2 separate regions of the Homo sapiens genome follow, and region 2 is linked to region 1. Evidence: fine-mapped expression QTL. Tissue or cell type: tibial nerve. Region 1 holds a variant in brackets; the other region holds the start of a gene. All regions are shown on one strand. Distances are from middle to middle.

Region 1 (8,191 bases):
CGTCTTAAAATGGAGTTTGTAATGGGCCTATCCCATCTTGGCTGGAACCGGAAGTCCTGAATCATTACTTTTTGAAATAATCATCAGTTAAACAAATCTCATAGTACCCTACTATTTGAAAGCTTTAAGGATTCTCAATTGTGTATTAAATAAAATTGTTACTCCTTGCCTTGACTTACTCAGTTTCTTCCACAAATAGTTCACTGCCTCTTTCATTCTTAACGTCTGCGCCTCCTCTACATGCAAACTTTGCTCCAGACCTGTTCACCTTCCCTTGAAGTAAATTTTTTTCTTTTTGTTTCCATTTTTCCCCCCGCTACAGCTTCCAGCTATAATCTCCACCCAAATCTTCTGGTACCACAAGTCCAATTCAAATACATTGTCCTCTATAAATTCTCTTTTTCAGTCTAATGAGAAGTGACTGTCCTCTCTAAAGAGGTATAGCGTTTACTACCTGTAATGGAATTTCCACAGTTTGTATTATATTTCTGTATTTGTGTACATGATTGATCCCTCCTGCTGGACTATAAAATGAGTTATTCCACAATCATTTTTGATCCTTAATTATGTGCTAAACATTGTTCTGGGTGTTGAAGGTAAAAACAGAGAAGTAACTGCAGCCATATTCTCAAAAAGTCCATATTGCAGGAGGGATCCACATCTGTGAGCAAGTAGTTGCAAGTCGTGTAAGTATATGAGTGGATGTTTATGCAAGTTCAAGCATATGGGACTACTACTTCTATATCTTGGTTGTGGTCACAACACTTAACACGTTGCTGTATTCAGAGAAAGTGCTTGAAGGATGCGCTAAATTCATGAAACTGAAAATATATGATTTGGTCTCTTAACTTCAGTGTTAAAAGTAGCAGTCAAATATTAGAATATTCCCAAAGCAAGGCCACATCAGAGTCATTTACTCATGTGGCAAATGATTGTGCCAGTTCCTTGGGGGCATTTGATGTTATATTAGAGATGCAGTATTGTTTGGGAAAGCTGTGGAGATAACATTCTTAATGCAGTGGTTTGGAAGAATCTTAAGTAATTATGAAGGGTTTTGTGTGAAAATATCTGTTATGCTTATTACATGGCAGTACATGAAAAAATGCATTTCAAGTACTAATTTATTTAATTTTATCACACTTCTACATGGACGCTATCATCACTCATATTTTACAAGTTCAGAAACTGAGGTGGTTAAACATTTTTCCCAGACTATTCAGTAATCTGTCAGTTGCTTTTCTCAGTAGATATTTCTGTCTGACTGAACCAATGTCTAAAAAGAAAGATCTGGGATCCTCGTCGTTTTGCCTTCAAATAGCCCTCTTTTGGACAAATCACTTGTGTTAAGTAAGATGATATTCAACTTCACAGAAAAAATGCTGAGACAATAAATGCAATTCAGAGAAAAGTTGACTTGTAAATTCTATGTGTATACAGCTATTTATAGCTTTTCCTCACAGCTTCCTTGTGAAGAAGGTATTATTTCCCTATTTTAGGTAAAGGCAAGGCACAAAATTCTGACTTAATCATAAGACATTAATGATAGAGACAAGTTTATTAAACAAAGCAATAAGTATAGTGCCTACTATGTATTTAACACAGTGAGGTCAGTTGATACCTGATTAATTTTAGGAGGTCAGATTAGAATAGATAATTTAGCTTATTATAACTTACATTGAAGCCATATTTCTCTATCATCCATCAGTTGCTCCCTCAGTTTATCAGATTTGCAGCAGTTTTGCATTTGAGGCTTGGACAAGATTGTATGCCTATATATATATATATATGTATGTGTGTGTGTATATATATATATATGAATGAGCTTCAGTTGTCCATTACATTGGACAAACTACAAAATTCTCTAAGGCTCAGTTTCATCTACAAAATAGAAACAATATAATAGTTATCTTTGAGATTGTGAGTACTAAATGAAATAATGCACATAAGATGAATATCATGGTGTCTGGTGATAGTAAACACTTGATATTTGCCATTATTCGTAGTAGTTCAGAAGCTTTAAATTTCTAGGCAATAGCTATGTCATTTACACCTACTCAGTATTTCAACTCTTTTTGCCAGAAGTACTATTTGAGTGCTACTGCATATAAAATAGCAATTTGGGACATTTTTTTGTTTAAGAGAAAGGAGAAGCCTCGGTAATTATTGTCTACCCAAATACTTTCTCCTATTTCCCTTTTCCTCACATTTTGTTCCAAAATAACACACTTATCTTCTGATTACTATCAATTTCAAATCGCTGAGGATAATTAAGAGGGTGGGAGAACATCAGCATTTATAGAGCACCTACTGTATGCTAGACAGCATACTGGACACTTTGTGTATATCCCATAGAATCCTCAACACTTTCAATTTTAGTACTGTATTATGCTAATTTTACAGATGAAGGAACAGGCTTTCATGGGTTAAGTACCTTGCTCAAGGTCATAAAGCTTGTAAGATGTAGAGCCAAGGGCATTGCTCATCTGTTGCCATATACTGTCCTTCCATTAAGATAGCCAATAAATAGTAAAGGTCTTGGTACTGCCTCAAATTTGGCCTGGCATAGACAAGAGTTCTTTATTCTTTCTAGTCATTCTTTGCCCATTAAAAAAATTATTTAATAAAATTACCATCTCTGACTTATAAGACTATTAGAATAATTTTTTCCATGCGGTCAAGCTTTTTGAGTTTTTCTCCTCTTAATTTCTGCACACTCGGGGGGGTCTCACAGCCGTTTAATTCTTTCTCATCACTTTCCTAGGGCATTTGCAATTTGTGTAAAACACTAGTTCCCTTACCACCTTCAGCTCTACAGTCAGAGCTATTGCTAGGGGAGGATGCGTTTGAGGAAATTCCCGTAGGCGAGAAGTTTTGAGGGGAACACAGAGGTCTTTGAAGACATGGTGAATTTGGAGGAAATTCTACGTAGAAGGATGCCTTTTGCTACCCTGGGCCTGCACTTGAGTCCCAGCTCCGTCACTTCCTACTGACTTGAGGCAAGCTGTTTAGCCTCTCTGGGGATATAACATGGAGATTATAATTGCTACATCATAGGTCTGAGGATACCATTAGATAATGTATATAAAATGGTATAGATAAATTGTAGCTGTTACTGGTTTACTTTTTAAGTCATGTATTTGAATTTTATAAGGAGAAAAACGGAAGTTCTACTGGAGAGATTAGAGAAGACCTGAGTCTCACATACAACCAGGTTGTAACTCTTTTCTTCACCTCCCCTCTCTCAGTCATCCAGAGATCAAGGTGTGTTCACCCCTCCAACTTCACAGTGCTGATCCTGTATTATGATGTAAGTAGAGGCGAGGCTGTGATTTCTGAGCCCCAATCCCTTTAGTATAGAGATCACAACCTGAAATGCCTGTGAAGGTAAAGTAAATGAGAGAACTGGGCCAGATGGGGAGCATGGTGACTTGGAGATTTATGCCCTGCCTAAAGAGGTTAGCAGCTACTCAGCTCCCACCAAGAGTGGTCAGTAGGACTTGGGTCCAGGATGGCCAGGTCTCTTGAATCTTCAAGAGAAGCCAGAAATGCTTATTTGTATCTCTCTTGGATTGTATATGTCGGCAATGAATTTTTTTAAGTTAAATCCTGCTTAATTATACATTCCTGTGGGTCTGTGTGGCCTGTGGTCCAGTATTTACAATATCTGTTATTAAGCAGACTTGTTTCCAGCAGCTTCATGGGTGGATCCAGCTTGGAGCTCTCCTCTTCTGAATAGTATCGAGTAACAGGAAACTATGTGTCAGGTGCTGCTCTAAGCATTTTACATCTATTAAATCATTTTAATCCTCACAACCACTGTATGAGATAGGTACAAACACTATCCCATTTTGCAGATAATAACACCGAGGTACAAGTGATAAGTAACTAGCCTAAGTTTATATGGGAAGACCTGGGACCTGGATTCAAATATAGGCAACCTGGCTCCTAATTGCTATATAGTATTTTCTAATGTTTGTGCTTTCAGAAGAAAAAGAAACGGTGCATTTCTGGTAATTTTAAATTTTCAAGGAATATTTCAATGATTTAGATCAGTACACTGCTCTCCCTAGTTCTTGAAACAATCCGGGCTGACATTTTGGAAAGGAGGGGAAAAGGGCAATTCTCTCATCAGGCTTCTTGGGCAAAGCTCTTCTGAAGTAAATGGGGCTGAAAGCCCCCATTGTGTAAACTCAGCCCACACCTCCCCACAGCGAGAAGTCATAAGCAAGTCTTGAGTCTCCAC[A/G]TAACTCTAGAGTTTTATAGAGGAAACTCTTCATTAACAATGCATTGATTTGTGACCACACTTCTGTAAAAAGAACAGCTTTCATAGAGTCCTCTGCAGCTTGCTTGCTTGCTTTTTTTTTTGAAGTGTAGTGTTTTTGCTTACTTGCAAAGCACTAAAGAGGAGTTAACTTTTAGATGGGTACAAGGAATCTTCAGATGTGTTGCTGCTAGTACTTTTTTTCCCCCATTGAGTATAAGGATGAAAAAAAATATTACATTTCAGAGAAGATTATCAGGAAAGAGAGTTTCTTCTCAATTGATGGAACACAGCAGAAAGGGGAAAATCCTTCATCCAGTTCTGACTTTATTCCATAGGATTAAAAAAAAAAAATCTTGTCTGAGAAAAAGTGAAATCTTGTCATTTTAGTCTTGCACTAGAAAACTTATAAATATGTTTGAGAGGAAAACAGAGCTGGGTAGAAATTTTTGCTCAGGCAAGGGGAGGGCTTGGGCTTCAGTCACTCCCTTCCAGGAAAAGGAAGTGATTTTTTGAGAGCCTACCATGTGCCAGACACAATCCATCCATTATCTTATTTTTTCTCACTCCTTGAGGTAAGTATTACTTTCCCTGAAGTGTTGGAAAGGCAGTCATTCTTAATTCCTTTCCACCTCTATGTCTCCTTTCTTTGCCCCCAGACACTAATTATGACTTCAGAAAGAAGAACTACTTAGAGGCAACAAGTTATTGGAAAGTGTGGAGGATGGAGGAAGGGAAGGCGGGGGATTTTTCCTGTGATTCTTTTAGCACAGAAAATATCTGTTTTTATTTTACCTGTGCATTTAGGAGGGATGCAGGAGATCATGGGAGTTTCAACCCCATGATCCAACCCACGCTTTCACACCATCCCTGCCTCTATAGTAAGTCTGGACTGTGTACTTGACATTTCAATATCCTTCCTCTCCTCTGTATTCCACCTGCATTTTTTCTAGCCTGTGTTTTTGCCCTTATTCACTTGGGCCACCATGATGGTCTCTTTAGTTGGATCTCTTGCTTTCAATCTTGTATACCTCCAATCCATTCTCCACACTGTAGCTGATTGAAACTGTGATACTACACCTCTGCTTATTGCATTCCTTAAGTGGCCCCTCACTGCCTACACAAAGAGGTTGAGTAAAAAAATAAAACATGGCAAATCTCACCAAGGGCCAACTAATTAGTGTTACTGGGGGTGAGCTAGGCACCTGCCGTCCTTAAAGCTGCACAGGCTATGTGTATTGTAAGAATCAGTGGCTTAGAGTGTCCAGAGTCCTTGGCATTGCACACAAGGCCCTCCGTGATTCTGCCTGCACTCCATTCTCCAGATTTCACTTTTCAGCCCCATCCCCACCTTATCTTGTGCTCCAATCATGGCAGTATGCCTGCTAAGCCCTGAATTTACCACGAAGATTCACCCTTCTCTGTGCTCCTTCTTTCTACCTGGATTGCTCTTCGTTTCTTCCTTGACTTCCTGGTGGAAACCTATGTTTATTTAGTCTCAGGTCAGGCATTATCTCCCAATAGAAATGAGCACTCTCTTTCTCGTTTTTGGCCCCCACTGTACATCATCCATCCATCATCTGAAACACTAGTGCATTTATTTGTTTAAATGTCTGCCTTCATGTGATAGATTTGGAACACCTTCACATTTTTTAGTTCTGAGCACATAATATTTATGGCCAATGGTGTTTATTGAATAAAATGAATACTTTTATTTTTCTTTAAATGAGACAGGGTCTCACTTTGTCACCCAGGCTGGAGTGCAGTGGTGCGTTCTTGGCTTACTGCAGCCTTGATCTCCGAGGCTCAAGCGATCCTCCCACTTCAGCTCCCCAAGTAGCTGGGACTACAGGCGTGTGCCACTGTGCCCGGCTAATTTTTGTATTTTTTGTAGAGGTGGGGTTTTGCCATGTTGCCCAGGATGGTCTCAAATTCCTGGACTTAAGTGATCTGCCTGCCCCGGCCTCCCAAAGTGCTGGGTTTACAGGCATGAGCCACTGTGCCCAGCCAAGTAAAATGAATACATTTTACAGTTAATCCAAGAGCACACAGGACTCCAGGACTGTCTGAATGCTATGCTCTTCTGTTATGCTCCCTGCAAGAAACTGCGACATAGAAATATTAGGCAAATTGTTGACCACAGTGGAGTACCCTCTGTCTTAGCAATGGCCCCAGAGAACTATCCCAATGCATATATACTTCAAAAAATATTAAAATCACGCTGTGTAGACAGTTGGTACCTCGCTGGTTGTTTTTGTTTTTGTTTTTGAGATGGAGTCTCACTCTGTCACCCGGGCTGGAGTGCAGTGGTGCGATCTTGGCTCACTGCAGCCTCTGCCTCCGGGGTTCAAGCGATTCTCTTGCCTCGGCCTCCCCAGTAGCTGGGATTACAGGCACCTGCCACTATGCTTAGCTAATTTTTTGTATTTTTAGTAGAGACTGGGTTTCACCATGCTGGCCAGGCTGGTCTTGAACTCCTGACCTCGTGATGCACCCACCTCTGCCTCCCAAAGTGCTGAGATTACAGGCGTGAGCCACTTGCCTAACCAGTACCTTGCTTTCTATAACTATTATATTCTTGGGCGATTATTATTTTAAGAAATATTTATGTAACTAAGTATTATTCCATTATACTACGATCATATTTTAAATCTACTGTTTTCCAAACAGTGGCTCACAACATATTAATTGGTAGGTTTAGTGGGTTGTAATCAACATTTTAAAAAATGAAATTGTATGCATTATATGTAGTTAACAATATGTATTGTCTCATGAAGATTTTACTTCAGATCTCTCCACACAGACACACACACATAAATGTATGTTTACTGTGTGGATATAAATGAATAGTGTAATTGGATTATAATACACCTTTTATTTCTTATTGAGGATCATGGTCAAAAAAGTTTGAAAGTTGCTGTTTTAAACATTCTTCAACAGGAGGAAATTTGGGTCATTGTATTTTTTACTATTATAAATAACACTGTAATGGATTTCCCAGGGGATAATTTCTTAAGTTTGTTTCCTTAGAAAGGATAGATAGGGAAAATATTTGGGCCAGAGAATATGAGCTTTTAGTCTCCTGATATCTATTGCCAAATTATTTTCTAGAAAGATTATAGCAAGTTATACTACCAGCAACATCATATGTGCTCAGGTGAATTTTTTAGTATTGGGCTCTGACTAGTGAACATTCTCAGGCATTACAGGAGGGAGCAATGCACATTCCAGGGCAGAGAAATCAGAATAATCAAGGAACTGAGATGGGGTTGTTGAAAGTGTTTATTAACTTTGATTATAGCAGGTAGTGTTGTTCATGGATAGTTGGTGAAAGAGAGCAGTAATATAGTCAAATAGTTTAGGGCCGGAGATCAGGGGTTTTACATGCACTGCTAAGTTTTTGTCCTTTATTCTTGGGAACTGAAGCACCATAAGGTTTGAAAGCAGAAAGTGAAGTGATGACGTCAGCCCTATATTACAGAATGAGAAAGTGGAGGAGAAACTAAGTTTCATAAGCTAGCTGGGTGATTATTTCAATAATTCAGGCAAGAAATGCATGTGCCTGGGAACCCAGTCTTGCTTTCCAATGGAGAAATCAGATGACAAACTGCCCAGTATACTCCATGAGACTCTAGAGTGCTCTCTAGCCTCTAGCCCCAACGCAGTGGTTGAAATCCTCTGATGGCCTGGGTTTGGTGATATTTCTGGAGCAATTTGATGATGGGATGGGACACAATCCAAGTATAGGGCCATTGAAAAACACACGTAAAAAATCACAGTATATTCTGCTCAAAACTCAGCCATTTCTGATGGACAAAACTTGGAAACTATTAACTTGACTGAGGGGTGAGAGTCGGGGCAGGAAATCCATTTGTGGATTGAAGATTCTGATTTGGATGACTGTGAATGACTTTAATATTTGAATATGGC
Region 2 (8,191 bases), 140 kb before region 1:
ACTTCTATGGAAAACACCTCAGAATTGGAAAATACTGAGGTAACTTCCTATACCCCAATATAAAATCAAGTGAATTAATCTGAAGCATATTACCTTTAATGAAAACTGGTAAAGAAACTTGGCAGAATATTTGAAAATTATATTCCTTATAAAAATGAAAATACAAAAATTTTTCAGGTGACATACAAAATGCTACTTATGCTATTGCCTTTTTCAAGTCCTAAAAAAACCTAGTGGTATTATTTTAAATTTGCTATTAGAATTAATTCAGTAGCATTTCGTTACAATGTTCCCTGCTCAGAGAGTAACTTTACCCAAAAATAAATTAGGGCTTCAAGAAAAAGAGCTAACTTTTCCCAAAATGGATGAAGATGGGAAACTTTGACAATATTCACAACAGTGATAGGGATTGGGCTATGGGGAGGAGGATGGATATTGCTGTTTAGCTCCTTGTAAATCCTATCTAGGAATGGTTGACAGAGGAGTGGGAAGAAACAGATGTAAGAAAGACAACAAGATATCAATATATCTACGTTATGAGTTAATCCAAAATTTGAGAGTGTTGTTTTAAAATATTAAGTGGTCTATTTATGTCAACATACAATAAACACTTGTTGGTTTACTTTCTTTCTTACTGTAATGATGCCACTATTTTGTTTCCCATTCCTTTATTGTCATTTTAGAGCTTTTCTTGACATTTTGCAAAGGGGGAGGGGGAGGGAGAAAAATTCCTCTAAAATTTTACTTCTAAAAGGACCAAACTGTGCTCTAGACTATATGCTGGCTCTAAGCAGCTGGGTTAAAATATATACAGAATGAGTTACTGGCTCAAGCAAGGATCAAACAGGTTTTTCCTAACTTTAAGAATAATGTTCTTATAAAACACTCCATAGACAAATACAGACCAAAACTTAAATGCAATTAACCTTTAATTTATATATATGAATGAAGAGGGATCTGAGGTATTAAAAACTTAAAATAGCTAATTCAAAAATAATTTATACTTGGCATTGGAAATCCTTATAATTCCCTACATCATTTTTCTTTCTTAATTATGTTCCTCCTAAGCTAATAATAAAGTTAATTTTCCATTCTTGAATGCAGATTAACTGATTGTGGAAAGAAGTGGTCCAGCATTTTGATGGGTTGAGGAGAGCCTGCCTAGGATTAAAATGTGAACTTTAGCAGTTGACTTATTTTCACGTCATCAATGTTTTTGAGTCAAAGGTGCCATATAGCAGAGTCTTCTACCAGGATTCCTCATCCTGATCATTCCCCTCTCCACTTCTTTCTTGGTAAGGTAGACCAACTATAACTCTCTCAGAGATGAGGGTGGGGCCAATCTCATCCAAATTTTATAGCTTCTCAGGTGGTGTCTGGGTGTGGTAGTGATCATGGTGGGGCAGAGGTGGGATAAATCTTTAGGAGGCAAGTACAGTGTTACCCTCAGATAGCTTTAAGACACAGTATCCTCCTGTGTGAAGACAGGGTCATCATACATGCCTTACCCATCCCCCCTGGGTTTGCTGTGAAGATTAAATCAGATAATAGGTGTGAAAGCACTTTGAAATTTGTAAAGTGTTACACAAATATAACATATTGTCTCTGTCTTTAGTACTCAGAATACTTAAGGGATTTAAAGAAATCCTTCTGTGGTCGTAAAGCAGATTAGGATAAAAGAGCTGGTGAAACTCATCATTACTAATAAAAAATTACTCAAAGTATATGTCAATGGTATTATCTCTATGAATTTTTTTAAAAACCACACTTTTTGTTTCCTGGGAGAGTGTCCTTGGAAGCCTCTGTGTACAGCACTTGGAGCTTCTAGTACTCCTGATCTGCTTTCTTCTGGTCCACCATCTACCATCTGCCCTCATGCTTCTCAGCAGCTGGATTGCCTCCTGAAATCTGATCATCCTCACTCTCCCTTCAGAAGCCACACTTTTTTTTTTCTATTGAAAGGGCTCCTTTACTGAACTGTGAGCATTGTCCTCTTAATGACTCAGTAGCTCTTGCCTGGCAAGGCAGAAGTATCCTTAGGTGACAAAGAGGCAGAACTCTATCTGCTTATTTATGATAGCACAGATATAGCCCATATGCAATTGGAACTTATTTGGGGTCAGGGGTCATTTTTTTTTTTTTGGTTTAACCTTAAACCTGGTGCCTTACAAAGTGTAGGTACTTGGTAAATAGTTGTTAAATTGATGCGATAAATATATCAGATAACTTGCTTTATCAGAGCTTTAAGCTCAGATTATTAGGTTATTTAAAGGATATTTATTTAAAGGATAAATATTCTGCCTCTATATTTATATCTGGGATTATGGTGACATGAAGAGTTGCTCTCAGTAGCTCCTATCACTTGACCGCTTCCTTGTTTTTCTTCTTATATTGCTTACTCTTATACCCTGCTTAGGACTGGATTAGACTGCAGGAATATGTACAAGAGAGGGTGAGGGATTGAATTGGATGGAAAAAAGAAACTCTAGTCCTTACCCTGGAGTTTAAAAGAATGAGAATGAGCCTCGTGATATCATAGTTGGAAATTTAAATTTGTTATTAATATGAAAAACTCTACTGTCATATCATTTATTTCTTGCCATTAGAGATCTGGTAGGGAATTCTAGCAAGTTGGAAGTAGTGAGCAAAGTTGAGGCATCTCTACTTCATAATCAAAATTTATCCTTTCAGGATATTCTTGTTAAAAGTTATTAACATTTCTTAACATGTTTCATTTTTTTAACCTTAAAAATATAATATCCACATTTTCAAAAAGAAGTACATCCATAACTCCACCATCTTGATATTTTAATTTTACATATATCTTCCAATCCTTGTCCAAATGTATGTTTAAAAAATATTTTACATATTTTTCTTCTGTGCATATTATTTTTGTTTCTGAGTTTCCCTGGGAGGATTGTATTTGCCAGATGAGGGCTCAATTTCTGAATGGCTCCGAGAACCCTAATTTATGCTGCTGTAGAAACTGACCAAAATGGGTTGGCATCCCCTGGGCAGGTATGTCCTCAAATTTAGAAGGCTCAGTTTGGAGGCTGAAGCAGGAAGTGACTATGAGCTGTACAATAAAGAGCAGAGCCCAGTATAAGAGAATAAAGATAGGTTTTACAAGAAAAGATGTAGGTAGATATTTAAGTAAAACAATTTCAGATGCTAGGAAAGTCTTTCTCCCCACCCAACCCAAACAAACAAGAAGCAAAAACAAAAAACCCAACTAAACAACGATTACAATAAATGTACATACCCCACTAGTTAACATGTATACTTAAGGTCAGTTTAAGAAAGCACTAACGTTTAAGCTGGAAAACTTAAAATATTAGAAGTTGACATAAGGTTTACAAAAGGGGCAAGAGAAGATGGCAGTCTCTCTGATAGGAATGGGGAGTTAGGGGCATGGTCCAGCCTCTATCCACTTTTCAAGGAAGAAAGGTGAAAAGGCATCCAGGAAACAGCGCAAAACCAAAACACTGTAAAATTAGGAATTCCTAATTCTGCCAGAGTCAGGTTCTTTCAGATTATTTAGGTTTTATAAGAGAGGACTGAAAGTGAAAAAGCCAAATATAAATTATCCGAAAACTGCAACAGGAAAGACTCTTGCAGGCTCAGAGGAAGGCTGTGGAAAAGTCATTGCTAGAGCTCTCCAGGATGCATCAGGCCGACACCACCTGTTTGCGGAGGGGTTTAGACCAAGGGAGGGGCCCTAACTCCGGCGAGGAGGGCGCCCACCCCTCGGTTCCCGGAGCTGGTGGAGGCGTGCGGGGGAGCGGGCGGCGCGGTGCACAGGTGGCGGGGGCCGCGCCAGCTGCGCGCCGCGCTCTGCTCCGCGGGTGGGCCGCCAGGCGTCGCGCTGGAGCCGCGGTTGCCCTGGAGACCAAGCGGGGCGAGTGGGCGGCGCGGCGAGGAGCCGAGCTGCGGCTGGAGTAGCGGGGCGTGAGTTGGGGGGAGTGGCTCCCCGGACTGCGCGAGGGGTCGGCTAGTCCTGGGGCAGGGCTGGGTGGCACGGCTGGCGAGCCCGGAACGCCTCTGGTCACAGCTCAGCGTCCGCGGAGCCGGGCGGCGCTGCAGCTGCACTTGGCTCGTCTGTGGGTCTGACAGTCCCAGCTCTGCGCGGGGAACAGCGGCCCGGCGCTGGGTGTGGGAGGACCAGGCTGCCCCAAGAGCGCGGAGACTCACGCCCGCTCCTCTCCTGTTGCGACCGGGAGCCGGGTAGGAGGCAGGCGCGCTCCCTGCGGCCCCGGGATGACTTCTCAGCGTTCCCCTCTGGCGCCTTTGCTGCTCCTCTCTCTGCACGGTGAGTAGCTCCAGCCCTTTCTTCCCGGTGGGGCCAGGCCGGGTCGGCGGGCCCGGGGCGAAGCTGTTTGGGGACGGCAAAGAGCCTCCTTGCTTTGCCGAGGGTCGGGAGTCCAACTTTCTCAGGGGCGGCGTTCGTTGCTGCGGCCGAGGCTCGCGCGCACCTGCAGCGGCTGCTTCTGCCGCCCGCGCAGCCCAGGTGTTCCTTGTCAGAGAGGTAACTAAACTCGTCCGGCTACCTCCGGTCCCAGGCCGGGCCCTGACTCTCACCTCGCTGCGCTCTGCGGAATGCAGGATCCTTTTTAGATAACGAACTCCCTTACTCACTGGTCCAGTTAGAAACTGTATTTAGAACCAGTTGTCTTTACTAGGCGGCCCTAGGAAAACTAGAAGTGCTTTTAAAATCATTTGGAAAACTTTATAGCTTTAACGTAACCTTTTAGAAGCCTATACACGTTTTGGCCGAAAATGATCTTTATTTTAAAACTAATTGTATACTGTGCTATACTACAATCGAAAACAAGAATTTATTTACACTCTAGCTTCATCTCCAAAGGACTTAAGTTGGCTCTCAACAATACATAGAATATAACAATATTAGAACAAAATAAATAAATGTCTTTAAATTTCTTGTTAACGGTTTTTAAAACATCTGTTTATAAATTTAGCTTTTAATCTCTGCTTAATCTTTCTTACATTTTCGGTGAATAGCCATCATATTAATTTAGATCCTGATTTTCATCCTATGCAGTGCTGTTTGTTTTTGTGTGTGCATTCTCCTGTGGAATCCAGTTTTCTGTCCCATTTATTGCTGAGATTTACTGAGATTTTTTTTCTGAAGGATGTTATTTAAAAAGCGGGTTCAGTGATTTTGGAACTTTGTGGTTAACCCTGTTTTTTTTCTGGAGACACCAGCATGTTTCCAGTCATTTCATGGCCTTATTCGAACTGATTTTGAAGTAACCTAATACTAGCCAACTTAACTTGTGCAGATTCATTGAATAGGGGAGAAGAGAATACGAAAACTTTTTGTATGTCTTCTCCGTAGAAACTAATGAAGCTGTTATCATCAAAATTAACTTTTCTAGAGTTCAGTAGGTATATTTTTAGTGATGATGTGCACACAATAACATCAATATGTCCATGTTATGAACTTGTGCTTCCAAGTATCTTGTACTGTTACTAGTTTGAGATGGCCAGTTTTTCTCTCTGTCCTACTACTTTTAAGTGTGAAATAAGAGAGTAAATCGGCTTTTTATGCAATCCTTGGACACAGCTCTAAATATTACCAATATTACAAGAACAGCTCAAATTTTTGGTAGAACATTCTATTATTAAAGTTGTATATTATAATAAATGCTCCTCTTTTTGTAAATAGCATTTGTGTATAGTTTGTTTTTGAATTATTAGGCAGTACTTTAAAAGAGTTGATACAATTCGCAGACTCAGCCTTGCAAGGTCATCTGATTTGTTCTTTTTTCTTCAGCAAAACTATTCCCAAGCCATAGAAAAATGTTTTTAAAGACTTCCAAGGACTTCTCAGTTTTGGCAATAACCTGTTATGTAGAGGCATTTTCCACTTTCAAAAACAGTGTTCATTGTTCAACAGATATTTACAGAGCCATCACTCTGTGCTTTTGAGTATCTGGTGGGGAAAGGTGGTGGTGGAATACAAAGACGCGTGTGAGTGTCTGCAGCCCGTAAGGAGTTTGCATTTTTAAAACAGGCTGTAAGCATGCACAAATAATTTATGGTACAGGGAATGTATGATGAGTTCTATTTGTTAATGTAAGTATCAAGTAAGACTTCTTGGAAAAGTTTACTTTTTATCTGGACATTGAATGAATAGGGTATGAATTGGCTCAGATGGGAGTGGATGGGCTTTCTTAACCAAAGGAACAGCCTGAAGGAAGGATGTAAAGTGGAACAGGCAGGGGTATACTCTTGAAAGGCCAAGCTGCTAGAGCAGGAGATGTGTGCAAGGGAGAAAGAGCCAAAAAGTAGTTGGGGGCAAGATAGTAGAGAATCTTGAATGCTGCGTTTGGGCTTTATTCGGCTGGCCATGGAAAAAGTACTGATGTTCAGTTTCCTTACTGTGGGGCGGGGAAGAGGATGAACAGTTAGCACGCCTGTTTGTGCTAGCATACCTGTCTCCAGGAGAATACCTTGCCCTAACCGAATTTAATTCTTGAACTAGTCAAGGGCAAACTTGGTTTGAATGAATTATGGCTCATCCCCAGAATTTTCAATGTGGAATAGCAGGAGGGGTGTATATCTGAACAAAGCTGGTTCCATTACAAAGGGGTAAAGGGAAATGGATGCTAGGTAAATAACCAATAGCAGTGGCCACTACAATGAAATGATACACCAAAGGTAGAAATAGAGGGTCTTTTCAATAAATGAAAGAAAATCGATGTTAATAAATTTCTGTTTCTATTTCTGTTTATTCTGTTTTCTTATTGTTATTTTGTTTTTATTTGTGAAGTAACTTCAAAGGGAATTTGAATTGAAAAGCTGACTTCTATATAGTTCTTCTAATGGGTTAGATATAACTAAAGTGTTTCTCATACTTGTGATTCCTTGAAATAGCAGATAACTTTTCAGAATTTGAGAAAATGTATAAAAAGAAAGAAATGACCACATAAAATGCAATGAAAATGAAAAAAGTCATGAACCTTTTCAGTGTTACCATTATTAAAAATTTATTGTAAAATCCAATTTATCAGCTCTAAATTTCATACTGTAATTGTTTTAGAAGGATTCACCTGTTAGTAAAAATCTGTAGTTTGACCTACATGAAAGATGACAGCTACGGGATGAAAATTTCAGAGATACTAAGCCTAATACACATATATATTCAACATGGACTATTCAGGAAGCAATTTAAATATTAAATTACCAAGCACTTAAAAAGCGTTATGCTTAGAACTGTTGTCAGACACAAGGTAATGATGCAAGGGGTAAAAGTACTTGTTTTGGCTTCCCCTCCCCAGGTGACAGTATGTGGCAGATTTTGAAATGTGTTTTCACACTTTCATAGTGGAGAGATTTATAATGAAAATTCTCATTTGAGTCTTCATACTTATGCCATGTGATTTAGTGTCAAACAAGGTGATGTGCTGGTGCAAAAGATTCTTTAGTTGCAGTGAGTAATACAAAGCAAGGGACAGGCAGTACTTACTGAGTTGGGAGAAAGTTCAGAAAATTCTGGCCTTCCCACTAAAACTTTTCATCCATAACTACTTAGTTAGTTTGTTTATTTATTTATTTATTTGAGATGGAGTCTGGCTTTTGTTGTCCAGGCTGGAGTGCAGTGGCGCCATCTTGGCTCACTGCAATCCCCGACTCCTGGGTTCTAGCAGTTCTCCTGCCTCAGCCTCCCGAGTAGCCAGGATTACAGGCGCATACCACCACACTTGGCTAATTTTTGTATTTTTAGTAGAGACGGGGTTTCACCACGTTGGCCAGGCTGGTCTCAAACTCCTGACCTCAAGTGATTTGCTCACCCCAGTCTCCCAAAGTGCTGGGATTACAGGCCTGAGCCACCGTGCCTGGCCCCATAACTAGTTTATTTAGAATAGGGATTCCACATCTATTGTTATCTAGACTAATGACAATTTTTTATACTCTCTCAACACTGAATTATTTTAGGCAGTTTGGGGAGGGTTTGCTGAATTTCTGTTTTCTAATTTACTTCAAGTGAACACAGTCATCTCAACTTTCTTTGTTTGGTGAGGGCTAGCTGGCACTAACACATCTCATCCCTGCATTTTGAAAACTGCCCCCACACCATCTGGAGGATCTGAAATCTTCTCTTGACCATACTTTGTGAGCAACTGGCTTAAGAGAGGTTGTTGGTTCTTGGGTGGTATTCAAAAAGCCA

What was found. PIP is the estimated chance that this variant, and not a neighbour inherited with it, causes the effect.
Region 2: IGSF11 starts here. The variant in region 1 is fine-mapped to the expression of IGSF11 in tibial nerve (GTEx, PIP above 0.99).

The regions. Positions count from the first base shown.
Region 1 is chr3:118,886,444-118,894,634 of GRCh38, reverse strand. No RefSeq gene overlaps it. Among named protein-coding and RNA genes, the nearest start is that of IGSF11-AS1, 53 kb to the left of the region's middle. The variant A/G (reference allele first, on the strand shown) is at 4,244.
Region 2 is chr3:119,030,649-119,038,839 of GRCh38, reverse strand. IGSF11 (immunoglobulin superfamily member 11) reads left to right here and starts at 3,994. Exons shown (of 7, transcript NM_001015887.3): 1 at 3,994-4,309. The coding sequence starts at 4,258. RefSeq lists a silencer at 3,714-4,073.